2 separate regions of the Homo sapiens genome follow, and region 1 is linked to region 2. The links come from fine-mapping of genetic effects on gene expression. A gene starts in region 2. The other region holds a variant in brackets. All regions are shown on one strand. Distances are from middle to middle. Region 1 overlaps ASB11 (ankyrin repeat and SOCS box containing 11). Region 2 holds the start of ASB11 (ankyrin repeat and SOCS box containing 11).

Evidence for each region. PIP is the estimated chance that this variant, and not a neighbour inherited with it, causes the effect. A credible set is the group of variants that fine-mapping cannot tell apart.
Region 1: its variant is the best candidate, but not a certain one, in a credible set for the expression of ASB11 in skeletal muscle (GTEx, PIP 0.77).

What each region holds. Positions count from the first base shown.
Region 1 is chrX:15,273,970-15,283,758 of GRCh38, forward strand. It overlaps ASB11 (ankyrin repeat and SOCS box containing 11), which reads right to left. Exons shown (of 7, transcript NM_080873.3): 7 at 7,728-9,660. The coding sequence ends at 9,536. Among named protein-coding and RNA genes, the nearest start is that of ASB9, 8.8 kb to the left of the region's middle. The variant T/G (reference allele first, on the strand shown) is at 5,569.
Region 2 is chrX:15,311,188-15,321,131 of GRCh38, forward strand. It overlaps ASB11 (ankyrin repeat and SOCS box containing 11), which reads right to left and starts at 4,453. Exons shown (of 7, transcript NM_080873.3): 1 at 4,238-4,453. The coding sequence starts at 4,418. It overlaps PIGA (phosphatidylinositol glycan anchor biosynthesis class A), which reads right to left. Exons shown (of 6, transcript NM_002641.4): 6 at 8,269-9,944.

The DNA of each region.
Region 1 (9,789 bases), 37 kb before region 2:
GAAAAAGGTGTGGGAAAATGTGGGAATATCAAGGGAGGGAAGAGCTCTGTGTGTCTCTTTCCCATGGCTATCTTTACTAATCGCCAGCCCGGAAGTCCAGTTTGTGTCATCCTCACTTCTGCCCGGTAGTGGTGGGCTAACTGTTCATAACTCCCCCAAGCAGGAGGATTCTGCTGCTGGGTCTCTGTGCCTTTTTTTTTTTTTTTGCTTAAAAATTGACCCCTGGAATTTCTAAGCAAGCATGTAATTAGATAAGTGAGCACTGTTCACAAAAGTGCCTGGTGGAAAAGAGAGAAACAAAGAGTTTCAAAGTATGTTTCAACGCTGAAAGCAAGAAAGAAAAAAAAAAGTTTTAAAATGCATTTTGAGGCTGGGATGCTCAGTTACACTGAGACCTTGGGGGAGCCTTCAAAGTCACTTCCAATCAGTCAAAGTTGGTCCAGGAGCTGAAGCTTCTTCTTATTTCAGCTGGCAATTTTTCTAGCACAAAACCTTTAACACCTAAAAGGTATACATCTGCTCTGACAACGTGGAATACTCTGCTTCTACTGCTTTAGAGAGAAGTCAGTCAGTCCTACTCCGCCAAGCAGTACGATAAGACTCAAATAAGAATGTGTTTTTTCAAAAATCTGGCATTATGCAGTATTCTTGAGGAAACAATCAGGCGGATCAAAATTGAGAGATAATCACATAACAATGGGACTGGACTCTTCAAAAATGCCAATGGCATGAAAGTCAAAAGCGGGGACGGGAAGCTTTCTAGATTAAAAGAGAATAAAGAGACTTGGTAACTACGTTCGATGCATGATCCTCAAAGAGATCCTGAATGGTGGAACATGACAGAAAATATATCATTAATGCCACAAGTGTGAGAACTTAAATCTGGATATACAGGATAGTTGTGCATCAGTGTCAAACCTCCTGTGTGTGATTACTACACCACAGTTCCACAGGAGAATCTCTGTGTTCTTAGGAGATGCACACTGAACTGCTCTGTGCTGAACCATATGGGAGCAAGAGGCCAAAAGGGAAATGTATGCCTTTATGCATATTTTGCACCAAGTATAAAAAGTTAATGTAAGCTGCGCAGTCAAAACACAAGTATGTATAAAGCCTGCGTTGCCCAATCTGTTTGCATGGCATTGTCACTCCTCAAAAACCCAGCAGCCACATATCCCAGAACCAGAGGCTGATTGGAAACACTATTCTCATTGCACAATAATGCAGGGACATAAACAACAAGAGCCTGTCTTGCAGGCTATTTTGGCTATCATGGGCTTTTTGCCTTAACATTGACTTTTCAAAACAGTGCACTAAAATATGCACATCAATGACTTTTTTTGCCCTCTTAAATTTTTTGCCTCACTCACCTAATCCTGATTCTAGCCCTGGTGAAGGATCATGATGCCCACAACTTACAAATCGTTCATTTTTTTAATATATGGATATGTGTTAATCATATATGAGTTTACATATATGGGTGTGTGTGCACATGTGCATTTATATATGTATATATGTGTATACATTTGTATATGCATATGTATGTGTATACATGCCTGTATATGTATATGTGTGTATATATGCATGTACATGTATATACATACATGTACTTGTATATATGTGTGTGTGCATACACACATACATAGAGAAGCAAATGTAGCAAAATGCTAACAATTGGTGAATTGAGGTGATGGGCATACAGATATTAATTGTTTTATTGAAAATTTTTTGTAAGCTGGAAACTTCAAGATATAACAACGGTGGGAGAAGAAAAATTAATAAATGGAAATTAAGACCTGGTGTACATTTGTTTACAAGCAAATTTGTTAAAATAAGAAGCTACTATTTCAAGTATGATCTGTGTATTTGTCCTGGTACAGGCTCTGCTAAGGGAAGGAGATGATGTATTCCATATACAAATGGAATATATCCATGCAAGTGCCGCCCCTGGCAGTGATAATGCAATGGGTAAAAACGTGAAGTCCTGCAGTGTGGAGAGCATCCTCCCCCACAAGTTGTGGTTATTCAGCGATTCATCCCTCACCATGGCAGCTTCAGGTGATGTCTCTGAAGTGTCAGCTATTCTCTTTGCGTTCAATTCATAAAATCTTCTCAGCAATGAGCATTGTTACTGAAAAAAGATTCATGTACAAACCTCATGTTTATTTGACAAAGCAATATGAGAAATAAAAGACAGGAGAATTACTTTGGGAGAAACAGTTCCTTAATCAAATGTGAACCAAAATTAGAGACGTTGGATTACATACCTAAACATTTAAATAATTTAAGGAATTTAGAAGGTGTTGAGACTTAAATCTTCAAGTGACATAGCAAGCTTATTTTTTATTTTTTATTTTTATTTTTTGAGACGTAGTCTTGTTCTGTTGCCCAGGCTGGAGTGCAGTGGTGCGATCTTGGCTCACTGCAAGCTCCGCCTCCCGAGTTCACGCCATTCTCCTGCCTCAGCCTCCCGAGTAGCTGGGACTACAGGCGCCCGCCAACACGCCTGGCTAATTTTTTGTATTTTTTAGTAGAGACGGGGTTTCACCGTGTTAGCCAGGATGGTCTCGATCTCCTGACCTCGTGATCCGCCCGCCGTGGCCTCCCAAAGTGCTGGGATTACAGGCGTGAGCCACTGCGCCCAGCCTATTTTTTTTAAATAAAAGGTAAAGGTAGATGATGGACTGATACAGTCATATAAATAATAGCTAGCTAAATAGATGGTAAATACATATATGTCTACATAGACATAGTCAGATGGTTTATGGATAGGCAATATTGGGTATTTGGTTATGAAAATATTCATTCCTTAAAATGATTCATTGTGTATATATTTTAAATTATTTTAAACTATTATTTTAAATAGTTTTTATATGTAAACCACACTTCTGGAAATCTAAGAAATACTTCAAACATTTTTGAAGATTTATTTTAAAATGAGGTTGACATCAATGTTATCTATAATAGCAAGAAACTAGAAATAATTTAAGTATCTAACAATATGGAAATACTTAAGGAATATGATATATTTTAAAAGGTTGTCCCAAAGGGTTTGAAACAGAAAATCATTACAATATGGTTTATGGGAAAAGCTGGAATCATAGATACTTTTATAATAGGATATCTATGTTAAATCAGGCAAAGGAATAAAAAATATGATGCACTGAAAATACTGAAAAATCTTAACAGTAAAAGTTAACTAATAAATATTATATACATATGTGAGTAGTTAGTTATTCCAAAATTCAGTCACCCTGCCAGGGACCTTGCCTAATCAGCTTATCTAAAATAGTAAGCCTCTTTCATCACTCTTTAATCTGCTTTATTTTTCTTTTTATCACTTCCTGATATGATATTATATTTGTATTGTTTATTCCCTGTTGTCCTCACTAACACATGAGTTTTTTGGAAGCAAACAGCATGTCTGTCTTTCACAATGTTCTACAGTGTCTGGCACATAGTAGATGCCAAGTAAAAAATGTATTAAAGGAATTAATTGAGAAGCTATCTTAGGGCACTTCAAATATGACTGAAATTGTAAAAATATACTGTTTTGGGAAAAAAACATCCCATATAGTGTAAAAAGTGAAATAATCTGTATTAGTATCTAAGAACCCCAAACCGCAGGCAAAATGGAAACTGAAGGGTTAATTTGATCAGGTCTGTCCGCCCTGCTTGCTTTTGGTGGCTTGCTTTTTGTTATTTCTTTTCTTTTTTCATGAAGCTGAAGGCTACAGTAGTTGAATGCCACCCTGCTGAACTCTGAAACTTAACCTTCACTGGCTACTTTATAAATAACATTCATAGTTCACCACAGTAATGATTGCTTCAGTTGTTTTTCAGGAACTTGGGCCAGCTCCTGTCCAGTTCAAACCAGTTAAGGCCACTGGCTCTTCAACTAGGCCTCCACAAGTGCCTGAGAAATGGCCTTCTGAATGTCAGAAGACCAAAAATGCCACCCTCAGATCATGCTAATGCCACTATTTTGGGTTTATATGTCCTATGTAATGTCATGAACCCTGGCTATGCTTGCACAGAATAAACCTGTTACTTTTATCCCCACTGTCAATTACTTTTCCCCATGCCTTAGACCACCCCACTTCCCTAACCCGTAAATATAGCTAAGGCTTATCTTTGGGAAGGTGGATTTGAGCACTGTTCTCCTGCTTTCTTGCTTGGCAGCCTTGTGAATAAATCTTTTCTCTTTTGCAAAACCCGTATCACAGTGATTGGTTTACTGCATGCAAGCAGAACAAACCTGGATCTAAAGTTGGTAACAAAATAATGTCATAAAAACCAGATGATTAGTCTGATGGTCTAAATATAGCTTAATGGATTAGGCCTTAAAAGGAACTTAAAGATTACCTCTTGTCTAATACATTCATTCATAAATTGTAAGACATCGGCACCACTCTAGGATTCAGGGACCTGGACAATCAGATGGATTCTGGTGAATGGTTGTTCAGGATTTGAGTGCCACCTCCTCCCCCAACACAAATACAGTCCTACCAGTGTTGGGAGGTCCATATAAATGATTTGTGGCATCCATGGTCTGCAGTTGCAGTGGGCAATGGAACACTTCCCTGGGGTCACAGACTGGTTGAATGTCCTAGAGCCTCCCGGGGCTTAACACAGTACTCAGACATTCAGCAAGATCCCAGATGACAAAAAAAAAAAAAAAAAAAAATGCACTCGCGAGAACACTTTGAAGGAAAGCCTCCAATTCCTAAACGTTCTATGATAGGAAGAGACTGTCCGTTCTTTCCTCTTTGATCGTTCCATGGCTAATGATGGCTCAAATGGCTCCTCATCCTGTTTCAAATCCATCCTTTCTTTCAATCAATTTTCCATCTTTAACATTCTTATGACTATTTATTTGTATGTTATTTGATAAGTTTACTATTCATTCCCTTTGCTAATATTTCTATTCATGAACCTATATTATTCTTATTGGTTTGTAAATGAACTCTTTATATGTTGAAATGTAGATATCAGCTGAGATCATTCTGCCCTTCAATATTTGGGGCGCATTGAATTGTACCTCCTTTCATGGCCATTGGACTTACGCTGTACCTTCCTCAAGATTTGTGAAAATTGACTTTCCTAAGGTTTGCAAACACTCTTCAGTTTTTCTCGTCACATCTCTCATAGAAGGAGAATTTGATCCCACCTGAAACAGGTAAGTTTACATATTGTTTTGCCACCACGTCATGCAATACATATATTATAGCATGTAGAGCCAGATAAATAATCTAGGTTCTTTCCTTAATATCTTCTAAAAAATGCACAAGGTATCATATACATTTTAGACTTTACTGAAGGTTTGGGTAATATTTACATCCTTGTTCACCAAAATTCTCCACTGGGAAAAGGAGAAAGCTAAGGGTGGGATCTGACAGTCTCCTTTGCCCTAGAATATTGACTTTTGATCTGCTATAAATGTCACATACAGTTTTCCTCTATTTTGGTTTGCCATTTCATTTTATATATGGCATTTTTTGCAACATAATTTTTGGTGTATTCCAGTTTATCGGTATTTTCCTTTAACCTTTCTGCCTTTGATATATT[T/G]CAAAAATGCTTTCCCTTTCATGTATATTCATGTAATTTTCTTATAGTATTTTTATAGCAGTATTTAATTTTTTAAACTTTTTTTTAAAAACAAGATTTGTTTTGGAAATACGATGTAAGATCAAAATGTAACCTTTTCCCCCCAGATAATTAACTAATTAAGATTATTAGATATTCCAAAATTGTAAAAATCAGAAAATGATTTAGAGTACTGTTAATAGAAATGTAATGTGAGCCACACATGTAATGTAAAATGTTATTACAGTCACACTAAAAAAGTAAAAAGAAAGCCAGTGAAATTAATTTTAATAATATATTCTATTTAACCTAATATATTGAAAAGATTATTTCATTGTGTGATCAGCAAAAAAGTTTTTTCGTTTAATTTTATTTGGTATGTAATAACTGTATATATTTATGGGGTACAGAGTGATATTTTAATACCTAGAAGTAATCAAATCAGGGTGATTAGCATATCCATCACCTCAATCATTTATCATTTCTGCTATGAACATTCAAAATCTTCTCTTCTAGGTTTTCGAAAATACATAATAAATTATTGTTAACCACATTTACCCTACAGTGCTATGAAACACTAGAAATTATTTCTTCTATCCAATTATAATTTTGTATCCATTAACCAACATTGCCCTATTGTCCCCTCCTCACTACCCTTCCCAGCCTCTAATAAGCATAATTCTACTCTCTGTTTCTGTGAGCTCAATTTTTTTAGCTTCCACATGTAAGCAAGAACATATGGTGTTTATCTTTCTGTGCGTGACTTACTTAACATAATGTCCTCTAGGCTCATCCATGTTGCTGCAAATGACAGAATTTCCTTCTTTTTTAAGGCTGAATAGTATTTCATTTTGTATATATACCACATTTTCTTTATCCATTGATCTGTTGACAGACATTTAAGTTGATTTCATATCTTGCTTTTCTGAATAGAGCTACAATAAACATGGAGGTGCAACTACCTCTTCCATACATTGATTTCCTTTCTTTCTGATAAATATCCAGTAATGGGATTGCTGAATCATACTTGACAACAACAAAACAAATAATCTGATTTTAAAATGGGCAAAGGATCTGAATAGACATTTCTCCAAAAAAAAGACATACAAATGGCCAACAGGTATATGAAAGAATGCTCGACATCACTAATCATCAGGAAAATGCAAATCAAAACCACAATGAGGTATCATCTTACCCCAGTTAGAATGGCTATCCAAAAAATAGAAAATAACAAATGCTGGTGCAGATGTGGAGAAAAGGGAATTCTTATACACTATTGGTGGGAATGTAAATTACCACAACCACTATGGAAAACAGTATGGAAGTTTTCAAAAAATTAAAAATACAACATCAAAAGCTATTAATATTTCAAAACAAAAAAATAAAAAATAAAACAAAAAAAGAAGAGGCAGGTGGACCAGTTGAGGTCAGGAGTTTGAGACCAGCCTGGCCAACATGGTAAAACCCCATCTCTACTAAAAATACCGAAAATTAGCCGGGCATAGTGGCAGATGCCTGCAATCCCAGCTACTCCAGAGGCTGAGGCAGGAGAATCGCTTGAACCTGGGAGGCAGAGGTTGCAGTGAGCCGAGATCGTGCCATTGCACTCAAGCCTGGGTGACAAAAGCAAAACTTCGTCTCAAAAAAGAAAAGAAAAGAAAAAAGTTCATGTATTTCATATTCTTTTTTTTACTCAGTCATTAAAATGTAATATGTATTTTACACGTGCAACACATCTTAATTCAGCCTAGCCACAATTCCTGTGCTCATTAGCCATATGTGGCTAGTAGCTACCGTATTGAATAGCACAGGCTTAGAGGTTGCAATGAGCCAAGGTCATACCATTGCACTCGAGCCTGGATGACAAAAGTGAAACTCCGTCTAAAAAAGAAAACAAAACAAAGTTCATAATGTTTCATATTCTTTTTTTACTCAATCACTAAAATGTAATATGTATTTTACACTTACAACACATCTTAATTCAGCCTATCCACAATTCCTGTGCTCATTAGCCATATGTAGCTAGCAGCTACTGTATTGAATAGCACAGGCTTAGAGAAGGGTTTCTCACTCTTGGCACTATTGACATTTTGTACCTGATAATTCTTTTTTTTGTTTGTTTTTCTTTCTTTCTTTCTTTCTTTTTTTTTTTTTTGTTTTGAGACGGAGTCTCGCTCTGTCACCCAGGCTGGAGTGCAGTGGCGTGATCTTGGCTTACTGCAATCTCCGCCTCCCGGGTTCAAGTGATTCTCCTGCCTCAGCCTCCCAAGTAGCTGGGACTATAGGCACCTGCCACCACGCCTGGCTAACTTTTGTATTTTTAGTAGAGACAGGGTTTCACCATAGTGGCCAGGCGGTTCTCGAACTCCTGACAGTGCGATCTGCCTGCCTCGGCCTCCCAAAATGCTGGGATTACAGGCGTGAGCCACCATGCCCGGCCAGATCTGATAATTCTTTGTTGCTGGCTCCTGTGCACTGTAGGGTGATTAGCTGCATCCCTGATCTCCACCGTCTAGATGATAGTAGCAATTCTCCCCCAGTTGTTGCAACTAAACATGTCTGCAGACATTGACAAATGTCTCAGTGGGAGTGGGGCAAAATTGTCTCCAGTTGAGAGCCAAAGGTCTAGAAAAATTGGGGGAAAAAAAAACATGTGTGAAATGAGTCTTAGGATGATCTGAGAGGGAATTTTCATTTTAGAACTGAATACTGAACCATGACAGTAATACTTACAATAATTAAAAGTCTATCCAGTTCCCATGTTCTAAATTCACAAAAAAGAGAAAGAATAGAGGAAGAGGAGGGGTGACAGAAGGAGAGAGAAATGAGAAGAAGGAGAAGACAGAAAAGGAGAAGCCTCTTTTTATATACCTTTGTGCTTATTTTGGGCCCCTATCCACAGAAAAAAATATTGACCCAGCATTGAGCCCACTTTGGTGGCTGGCATCAGTATGTAATTATTTCAAAAACCCTGAGCATCTTGACTTTGAAAATAAGCCAGTGCTTGGGTTGCAACATGCCTCAGACAATGCCTGTGGGTTCAGGTTGTTGGGGACACCCAGTGTTCTCAATCCTAGAACTGCTTACTTCAAATAACAGCATTTAATATCAGAAGCAATAAGCAATAGATGCCAACCTCTGGGTGCACTGATCTCTTCCAAAGTCTCTCTTATCAACCAGGACCGCAGTAACTGGAAGCCTCAGTTAACTACAATGTTTCTGAAGTCCTTAACTTTATATATGTATATATATATAAAGTCTATATAAATATATATAACTTTATATATAAAGAACTTTGAAAACATATATATATAAGCTTTATACATATATTAAGGACTTTGAAAACATATATGAACTATATATATTAAGGACTTTGAAAACATTAAATATATGAGTGCATGTGTGTGTGTGTATATATATACGTATATATATATACGTATATGTATGTATATATATATACGTATATATATACAAAAAATCAAAATTATACCAGATTTATTCAAGGAAAGAAAGAAAAAAAGTGGGGAAGGGCTGAAGGAAGGAACTAAATCAAGAACATATCTTGGAATACCTAACATTTGTTATAATCTTATCCACCTGAATTTATATGTGTCTATACAATATTCAGAATGTTGACTTTTAGGTACAAGAAGATCCCGAATCATCAAAAAACAGCCTATTGTTTTCACTCTACTTCACAGTTCTTTTAAGTTTCTTAACAACAAGAGCTAAAAGCTAAATGGTTTCTACTTGCCCCTTGGTTAATGAGAACATTAAACTAACCAGGAGTTTCCACTCCTCAAGTGTTCTAGCTCATGGGGGATTTACTTCGACTGAGCTCATTTAAAGATACTAGGAGTCTAAGCTGTTGAGCTTCTACATTAGGTACTCTAGGTACAGCAGACAACAATCTGTGTCATTCCAAGTATCTTCCCAGGAACACTTAGGACTATTGGTATAGGAGGAATCGTTCGAGTGGCTCTGGCAGATGTAGCTTGTGGATGGCTTGATGACATGCTCGACCGAGACACTTCCGGACACACAGGCGGCAGAGCTGGGAAAGAGCAGGTGGGCCTGAGAGAGAAATAAAAATGGTGTTAACTTCATAGTGGTGGGAGGTGGGGTGGAAGGGGGAAATCAGAGAACTGGAAGAGGCGGAAATTTTCTAAAAGCAGAAGAGAAGCTGGATCTGTATAGGAACTA
Region 2 (9,944 bases):
TTAAAATAAATATTCTCCAGAATGTCCAGTCCTAGAGAGGAGATGAGACACAGTGAGCTGTGTTAGACACAATTAACTATGTTGCAGTGTATTAGAAAGAAGGCTCCTTTGAACTCTTAAGGGCGGGAGAGCTGAGCTAAAGGAGACTGGTGGAAGGTAGAGCCTCTGCCAAGGACTGGTTGTCCCAACCTAGGAAAAGCCAGCAGGCACCTGATATGCAACTTAGAGGATGGTTAGGCCAATGTTTGTGGAGACAACCAGCAAAACTAAATAAGAGCAGAAGGCTAGGTCGAGGTTTGGGCAAGAATGAAACTAAGGCGATCCTATTGGAATGGAAAAGACAGGAAAAAGGATTCAGAATGCTGAGTTAGGCAGAGGCATAGCTGTCAAATCATGGTCAGTCCATCAACAAGTGATTTTAAGCATAAAACTTAGAATAGGACTGATCTTTTAGACACAGCTTAAAATAGCCCTTTTTTTTTTTGAAAGAGGGCACTACAGTTCTACAACGTCTTATCTGCACTTGTAAAGTTCCTCCAATTCTGAAAACCAAGCTTTACCCCAAATTTGATGCAAACTTGTTTAGCAGCAAAGCATGGCCAGGACTTAGGTTAAGCAATTTATTATTTGTTTTATATTTCCATCTAGTGTGAATACCTATATGTTCACTATAGAAAGATCAAAATGTTTGACTGTGGGAGGCAGCTCCAGGCCCCACCAGAAGTGCTGTGCAATAGACAGTATGCACATTGTATGATCTTTCTAACATTCAAAAGCTATTGAATTCTGAAACATGGCTGGCTGAAGGGTTATGAATAACAGATGATCAATCTGTATCTACACTATATTTTCTTTCTTGATGACCAAGTCACAGTACTAAACATAGCTTAATACAAATTAGCAAAGCTTGAAAAATCATACAATACATCTCTCCTGAGAAAGTGCCTGCAGAAATATCTATGGACTGAAGGTGGGATCCAGTGATCCATCTGGTGCTCTAGGCATAACACCAAAGGCCAAGGACAATGTATTAAACTTTAAAAAAGAAAAAAAAATATACATATAATAGACAAAATAAACAAAGAAGCTTAAAAACCAAAACTAATAACAGTCAACCATGGCTTAATTCAACTATGATGAGTGATCAGCAAATGTAATAGTTTAAGCCACAAAGACATATAAAATAATGTATTCCAGACTATGAAATCCACCCCCACCCGCCCACTGCACAAAAAAAAAAAAAAAAAAACAACTTTCCAAAAGGTTTTACAGCACAAAGAATGATATTTAATGAGGCATGTGGTGTTAAATGCAGCTTCCAAAAAAAAAAAAAAAAAAGAGTGCTCTGGACCTACAAAAGTCTAACCTGTGTGCTGGCTAGGTTTTTCCTGCCCTTCCTTGCTTTTGACATTGCTGACAATAGTTTACAGGAATAGCATATGCTAGCAGACTCAAGAAACTTAACCTTGGGCTGGGACTTTTGTAAGTCAATTAGCTAATTTACTGATTAAATGTCATATATTTTCCCAACAAACATTTGTCTGACCAGTGCAAAAGTGACCAAAAGCAAAGGTGATTTCTGGTTTGAGTTTGATTTCTGGTTTGAGTTTAACACTTCCACAAAATTTTGTTCTTGATTTTTAATACACCTAAATATATTGTTATGGGATAATTTAGGAATTAGAGAGACTGAGGGGTTGAGGAGGATTTATTGTTTAGGTGTATTGGCCTAGTTGCATTAATATTTAAAGGACTGGGTTTTGAATAAAGAGTTGTTATTTTTTAAGTATTTTGTGGGGCGGGGGAAGATTTGTAATAATATAGTATCTGACTGTTAACAGTGGTATCAAAAGAAAAACACAGAACCATGTGAAAAATACTGGTCCAGGCATGTTACTGCCTACATTCTTATAGAAAGACTTATTTAGCGGCCAGGCACAGGTGCTCACACCTATAATCCCAGCACTTTGGGAGGCCAAGGTGGGCAGATCACTTGAGGTCAGGAGTTCGAGACCAGCCTGGCCAACATAGCGAAACCCCATCTCTACTAAAAATACAAAAATTAGCCGGGCGTGGTGGCGTGCGCCTATAATCCCAGCTACTCAGGAGGCTGAGGCACGAGAATTGCTTGAACCCCAGAGGAGGAGGTTGCACTGAGCTAAGATCGTGCCACTGAACTCCAGCCTGGGTGACAGAGCAAGAATCCATCTCAAAACAAACAAAAAAACAGAAAGTCTTATTTACCAAATCTTGGTAAATTTGGGGGTGGGGGGATTCGTGTATATGTATACACACACACACACACATATACATATATATATGAAAGAAATAAAACTGGGAAATTAACATGCACCATTCCCTGCCTCTTTAACAATAATTGAAAAATGTTTTTGACCTTAGAATACTATGCTACTTGCAAATTAACCTATTTTAAGAGATTGAACAAGTAAAGATATTTGCACTACAGAATGAACGAACTGTATTTAAGAGATTTGTATTCCAGCTCCAGATTAAATTCAAACCATGCTTACATGGGTTTTGACTATAAGGAGGTTTTATACCTTTTTTAAGAGTGCACTTGAGGCCGGGCGCGGTGGCTCACGCCTGTAATCCCAGCACTTTGCGAGGCCGAGGCGGGCGGATCATGAGGTCAGGAGTTCAAGACCAGCCTGGCCAACATGGTGAAACCCTGTCTCTACTAAAAATACAAAAAAATTAGCTGGGCATGGTGGCGTGTGCCTGTAATCCCAGCTACTCAGGAGGCTAAGACAGGAGAATTGCTTCAACCGGGACCTGGGAGGCGGAGGTTGCAGTGAGCCGAGATGGTGCCACTGCACTCCAGCCTAGGCTACAGAGCGAGACTCCATCTCAAAAAAAAAAAAAAAAAAAAAGAGTGCACTTAATTAAAGACCACAAAGACAGAAATAATGCGCAGGTGCAACAGGAGAAAACATTTGTAACATGTTCTTGCCAATATTGACTTTGTTGGACTTCATCTAATTTAGACCAGAAGAATGATTTATCTATGAGAACACCAAAACTATTATTGAAAATTTTAGAAAGCCCTTGCCCAAATTGACAAATTAAATTAGAAGATAACTTTTCAGATCATGCTTAACTTGAAACTTATCAGAAGCATTACTTTTTTTTTTTTTTTTTGTAACTAGTCAAAGTAACATACCTCCCTGAAATGTGTGACAAATATAATCCCCAAAAGAAATCTCTTTCCATGGTCCGGACCTTCTGATACGTTCTGAAACTTCACAATTCTTCTCATTTTCCCCAGTTAATTGAAGCATTCTGATGCTTCGTCCTTGGAGGTCTTATTTCTTTAGATAAGACTGCTGTTGTCTAGTGTCTTCTGAGTTGTCTAGTGTATTGGAATCACATAAGACTATTTTGAAAGAGAATCCTGGATGCAAATTGAAATGGATACTAGATAAAGAATGATGTAATCCTGGAACCCCTGCAAACACTAAAAATACACGGGGAAATTCTGAACTCTGTTTATGAATAAATACTCCTCTATTAAGTGACAATCCCAGGAGTGACAGGGATATCTGACTCATTTACTTTTGTAGCATCTCACCACAATTAAAGTAAATCATTTCTTGAAAGAAATGGACACTATTCTCTACAAAGCATGAGAATTTAAAATGTTTTGCCCAAATCTTGGCATTTCATGTTAGAATAAACTTTGTTTGGAGTGCTTTGCATGCTACCATATAAAATGGGTTTAGTGAAGAGCTTTTCCTGACAGTGACAAGTGGTTAATCAATTCCAGTTGCAAATGACAGCAAAAAAAATACACATAGCTTGCCACGTTTGCTGCTTTAATTATAATTTATTAGTCATTCTATTTCCTGAGAGAATTTAGTCTGGTTAGAATGCCCTTCATTGTTAAAGTTTGCTTTAAAATATTAAAGAAAATAATTATATACAAGTAATTACTTTGGCTAGTAGAAATGAAGTTTCTCAAAATACTCTTAGTAAGCCACTACCTATTTACTTCTTAAATAACAACTGCTACAAGATCTACGAACTTGCAAAAAATAAAGCTGAAAATCCTCCACAAATTGATGCAGCCAACAGCATTTGCTACTTTAAGTGACAATTTTTCAAACTACCCACTTAAAATCAAAGTATAAATATAATCTGCCTTCCAGAAATACTAGTCATATGAATTATCTAGGAGGGATTTTCTTTAAATATTAGGAACAAATTCATGTACTTTTACCTGAAATTCCACCATAGATCTCTTCTGCTATCCTAGCCGCTTCTTTTCTATTTCCTTTGACGATATAGAAATGGGTTAGGAGAGCCAAAAAAACTTTAATTAAAAGCTTAAAGAAAAAAAACGTAGCAAACATTGTAATAAAAATGTTTTTAAAGCCATAGAAAACAGGACCATCTTCCATTTTGGCTTATGCTCTGTATAGGGTCCTAGGACTGTAAAATTTCACTGAGTTATAATTGGTATCATATGACATCTATTTTAAACCTTCTAGCACTCAGTGCTCCTGTTACCGAGATCTCTGTAGGTTCTAATCTAACTGATTTGGCGACTGCATGTGCTGACTCCACAGCAGTGTTAAATAAACTAAAGAAACTTCCTTCTAACCAGAAACATCCAATAGTTCTAGAACTACATAACTCAGTACTATCTAACAGATAAGATTCATATCCAAACATTTTATATTCCTAAACCCCTATTTTTCCTATTTTATGTTAGAAAGCAGGGTTGGAAAGATAGAAACTTCTTGGCTTCCACAGAAACAAAGCAAGTTATTTGACATACAAAAGAAGTGCAAATATGCTGTATGTTCTAAGTGGGAAATACTACTCCCTGGAGCATTTCATTTTCTCTTAATTCTGAAGTTTATAGAGGATTAAATCCAAATCTAAAATATGACCAGTTAAAAAAGACCATTTACCTGGCCGGGCGCGGTGGTTGACTCCTGTAATCCCAGCACTTTGGGAGGCTGAAGCAGGCGGATCACCTGAGGTCAGGAGTTTGCGACCAGCCTGGCCAACATGGCGAAACCCCCGTCTCTACTAAAAGTACAAAAATTAGCTGGGCGTGGTGGCAGGTGCCTGTAATCCCAGCTACTCAGGAGGCTGAGGCAGGAGAATTGCTTGAACCTGGGAGGCGGAGGTTGCAGTGAGCCGAGATCGCGCCACTGCACTCCAGCCTGGGTGACAAGAGCAAGATTCTGTCTCAAAAAAAAAAAAAAAAAAGACAATTTACCCTAAAGCTGTATGTATGTATGTATGCATGTATGCACGTATGTATGTATTTAGTTTTAAGATGGAGTCTTACTCTGTTGCCCAGGCTGGAGTGCAATGGTGCGATCGCGGCTCACTGCAACCTCTGCCTCCTGGGTTCAAGCGATTCTCCTGCCTCAGCCTCCCAAGAAGCTGGGATTACAGGCATGCGTCACCACGCCTGGATAATTTTCGTATTTTTAGTAGAGACGAGGTTTCGCCATGTTGGCCAGGCTGGTCTCGAACCCCTGACCTCAGGTGATCCACCCACTTTGGCCTCCCAAAGTGCTAGGATTACAGGTGTGAGCCACTGCACCCGGCCAAGCCTGTATTTAATAAAAGGCCTATCTTGGATGCCTCTCCAAGTAAGTGTCACACTAGAAGCATCAGACTACTCGCCATGGTAGTTCCATCTGGGACAAGGTCCCATGGCAAGGTTCCCTCCTGATCATTCACTTGCATTTCAAGCATTGGTAAAGGTGGTGCCCATTTCTGAAAAATGTGGGCTATCCTTGATCATGGAAGAGTCATAGTGAAATGGACAAAAGAGATGCCCTAGGTTCTGGATGAAGTACCCAAATATTTCATGAATCAACCTTCTCTAGTTGGGCAATTTTCTCTTATCAGCTGGCCAACACAAGTGAAATGGGTTTATTTTTAGTTTTCCTCATCACTCTAGGTCTCTGCCTTCATTCTTGGCTATGTTCGATTTTGTAAATTTTAAAAATCAATTGAAAAGACAAGCCAAAATATAGTTATACAAGTGGCCTAATAAATCTTAACAAATGATTTATGCAAAAATATGGGAATTTCTCCTAGCATGCAGGCAAATTAGAATGACTGCCTGGTTAAGAACTGTTTCACTACATTAAAAAGCTGACATGTAAGAATACAATCTTGAGTCACAACATACAGCTCATCGATTTCAGTGTATCAGAGCACTATAAAGACCTTGAGTCGTCTTAACTCTCAAGGAACAGACATTAACATAAGATTTACTTTACTGAGCTTATATTACCTGGTAGAATGCCAGTGTATGAAAATACATGAATACAACTCTTTTAGTCCTTTTCATTTATCTTTCTTCAATTATACTCTAAGTAGGCAATCATTTAGTCATGTCAGACCAGTGATGTACATTGTTCTATAACATTATTCAATCTTGTTTTGGTCTTTTCATTTAAAACATGGCTGTCCTATGTTTTACACGCCAAAAAAGTTGGCCATGAAAAGCTCAACTTTATTAAGGTTCAAATGGGTGTCTATACTATTTCTGAGAGGCCATCTTTTTTTTTTTTTTTTTTTTTTGAGACGGAGTCTCACTCTGACTCCTAGGCTGGAGTGCAGTGGCGCAATCTCGGCTCACTGCAAGCTCCGCCTCCCGGGTTCACGCCATTCTCCTGCCTCAGCCTCCCAAGTAGCTGGGACTACAGGTGCTCGCCACCACGCCCAGCTAATTTTTTGTATTTTTAGTAGACACGGGGTTTCACCGTGTTAGCCGGGATGGTCTCGATATCCTGACCTCGTGATCCGCCCACCTCGGCCTCCCAAAGTGCTGGGATTACAGGCGTGAGCCACCATGCCCGGCAAGACCATCTTTACTATATTTGAACATTACATTTGTGATGGGCATAAAAGGCTACTGATACATAAGGACAGTTGATTCATGCTATCTTTCACAGATGAAATCATCAACAGCACCAAGGTTTCTCAGCCTCAGCACTATTGACATTTTGGGACAGATACATGTGTTGTGGGGGATGGCCCAGAGCATCGCGGAATGCTTAGCAGCAACCCTGACCTCTACTCACTTGATGCCAATGCCCCACCCCACCTAGTAGTAACAACCAGACATTGCCAGATGTCCCCTGGGAAACAAAACTGTCCCCCCAAGCCCTAGTTGAGAACCACTGAGCCATACCCAAATAGAAATGATAAAGGATAAAAATCAGTTCCCCCAAGTACTAAAGGCTACAAATCAAATTCTACATAGAACTTTTTCATAATTTTATATTAAAAAATCCAGCCACAGGATGATACAATTCAACATCTAGCCACATCCATTTGGGAATGCAGAGATGGATAAAGAGGCTTTAAAATTACTTCACAAAAGTAAACACAGACCTATACTACCCTGACTTTGCCAAAAATAAGTTTTGGCATAAGATAAATCAAAACATAAACATAGGTGACTGCTTTCCACTGCTTCCCACAAAAGGAGTGGGAGAAACTAAATCAGGGATGTCCAATCTTTTGGCTTCCCTGGGCCACGCTGGAAGATTTGTCTTGGGCCACACATAAAATACACTAACAGCAGATCATGAGATCAGGAGTTCGAGATCAGCCCGGCCAAAATGGTGAAACCCCATCTCTACTAAAAAATACTAAAGTTAGCCAGTGTGGTGGTGGGCGCCCGTAATCCCAGCTACTCAGGAGGTTGAGGCGGGAGAATCATTTGAACCCGGGAGGCGGAGGTTGCAGTGAGCCAAGATCGTGCCACTGCACTCCAGCCTGGGCAACAAGAGCGAAACTCCGTCTCAAAAATATATAAATAAATAAATGAAAATACCCTAATAGCTGATGAGCTAAAAAAAAAAGAAAGAAAGAAAGAAAGAAAATCACAAGTCTCATAATGTTTTAAGAAAGTTTACAAATTTGTGTTGGGCAAAGTAGAAAGCATAATTATGTAGCTCACATACACAGTATAGTTTGTAGATATTTTCCTTGTCTCACGTGATAATGCTAGGGCAATGAAAAACAAGGGCTTATTTGGGTAAGGAAACAAAGGCACAATTGAACTCGCTATTCCATGAGTGAGAGAGAGAAGATATTCTAGAAACAAAAAATGACAGAGTAATTCATCGCCCAAAGGGTATTTCTTGTTTTACTAATAGACCAAGCAACACATCCAAATTGCACTGAAAAAGAATGTGTCGGGGGCAGGGATAGCCTGTTCCACTAGTAAATAATAGTCTGTTCATAAAATAAGACAAACTCAGAAAATTATCAAAATGTCATTCTGGTCTTTATTTTTGGACATGTAGCATGTTTTAACAAATCAGTTTTTCATAGGCAACCTTTTGAAACATCAAAAGAAATACAATATATTTTTCACAAATTTCTCATCACTGTAAATTCACTTTAAAATCAACTAAGTAGCAGGGTAGAGCAATGTGTTTCCATATACCGACCAGTGCAAACTGACAGTTACAATTAAGGTATCCAGAAAGGTTGAAAATTAAGATTTACGTGAAACAAATTTACTTCCATTTGTTAAAAAAAAGAAAAATAATAATTTGCAAATCACATGTTTTACAGGCAAAGGCAACTAACTTTAGATCTTATTTCCATCTCAAATAAATGACAGTTTAAGAATTAAATGACAATTTAAAAAAATTAAGCAAAAATATAAGGAAAAAATGGTGGCATGCCTCTAAAACCTGTTGAATAGAATAATGGCCAAATATTACAGTTTCTCACTTTCCTATGAATACTGGCACTGTTTATTTCATGTTTATATGTGAGTTTCTATGCATAAAAATCCCAGTAAGACTGAATAGTTTAAAGATCAGTCCATTTTTCTCCAACAAAACCCCTAACTTCTAGATTTTAAAAATTGCACTCTTGCTTTTGCATTTTAGTACAAACAAAACACAAATATATTTCTTTTATATCAGTGCAACCAGTTAATAGGCATGTTATTTTTTAAAAAGTAATAAATTTTGTGAATGTTGTCATTTTTAAAAATCCTATACAGAATCACAACACTGTCAGAATCTATGTAGTGCACCCACAAGTGCCTTATTGTTTTGAATTCACAGTCCTTTTCTCACAAAAACCTTAAGAGTTCAAAGAATTCATAATACACACCATGTGGATAATTTGGGGTTAAAAAACCCATGGCTCTGGGCAACAACAATGACAGTTAATAACATCCACCCACAAAGACTGTTTCTAAAATTTTCAACTTAGTTTGCTATAAATAAACCATTCTGAAGTAAAGCCTTTTGCACACTGACAATACTTATCAGACATCAGCGAGGCCACAGTGAAGGGGAGTGACTTACATTAAAAGGACAGGGTAGCAGCTGGTTTTGGGATGGCACACCTCGTACATTCTGCTCAGAAAACACGAAGGCATTTATAGAAAACTCAATTATGCACTGAAAAATGTGGAGGGTTTCTCTGCACTATCAACAGTGATATCGGTCCCCAGTATTTAAAAAGCAAAAAATACCTTCACAAACACAACTGAAGATGGAGGCTCTACCTAGGAGAATGCATACAACAGGAACAAAGTACTAGTAGTGTGTCGGTGATTTTTTTCCTGGCATTAACTGGCATGAGCATTTTTGGCATGTTGGATATTGATCTCATATCAACCACAATTATGATGAAGTAAGCCATTTGAATGGTAAACAAAGAGTGAATGCACCCCTGGTCCTTAATGGCGGGAAGCATCTAGTTCAACATTCTACACAGAGCAGGGGTTCAAAATGTGCTGGTAACTGATGGACTATCTTACTCAAGGAACCTGTTAATTACATGTAACACCTACTGAGTGAACCTAATAAATGTTCAAAGACATGATTTAGATTCCTAATAAATGTATATGAACATGATATAAAACAGTTCATATAATTGTTGTAGTTCCCCTAAAGAAAACTTGTAAACATCTG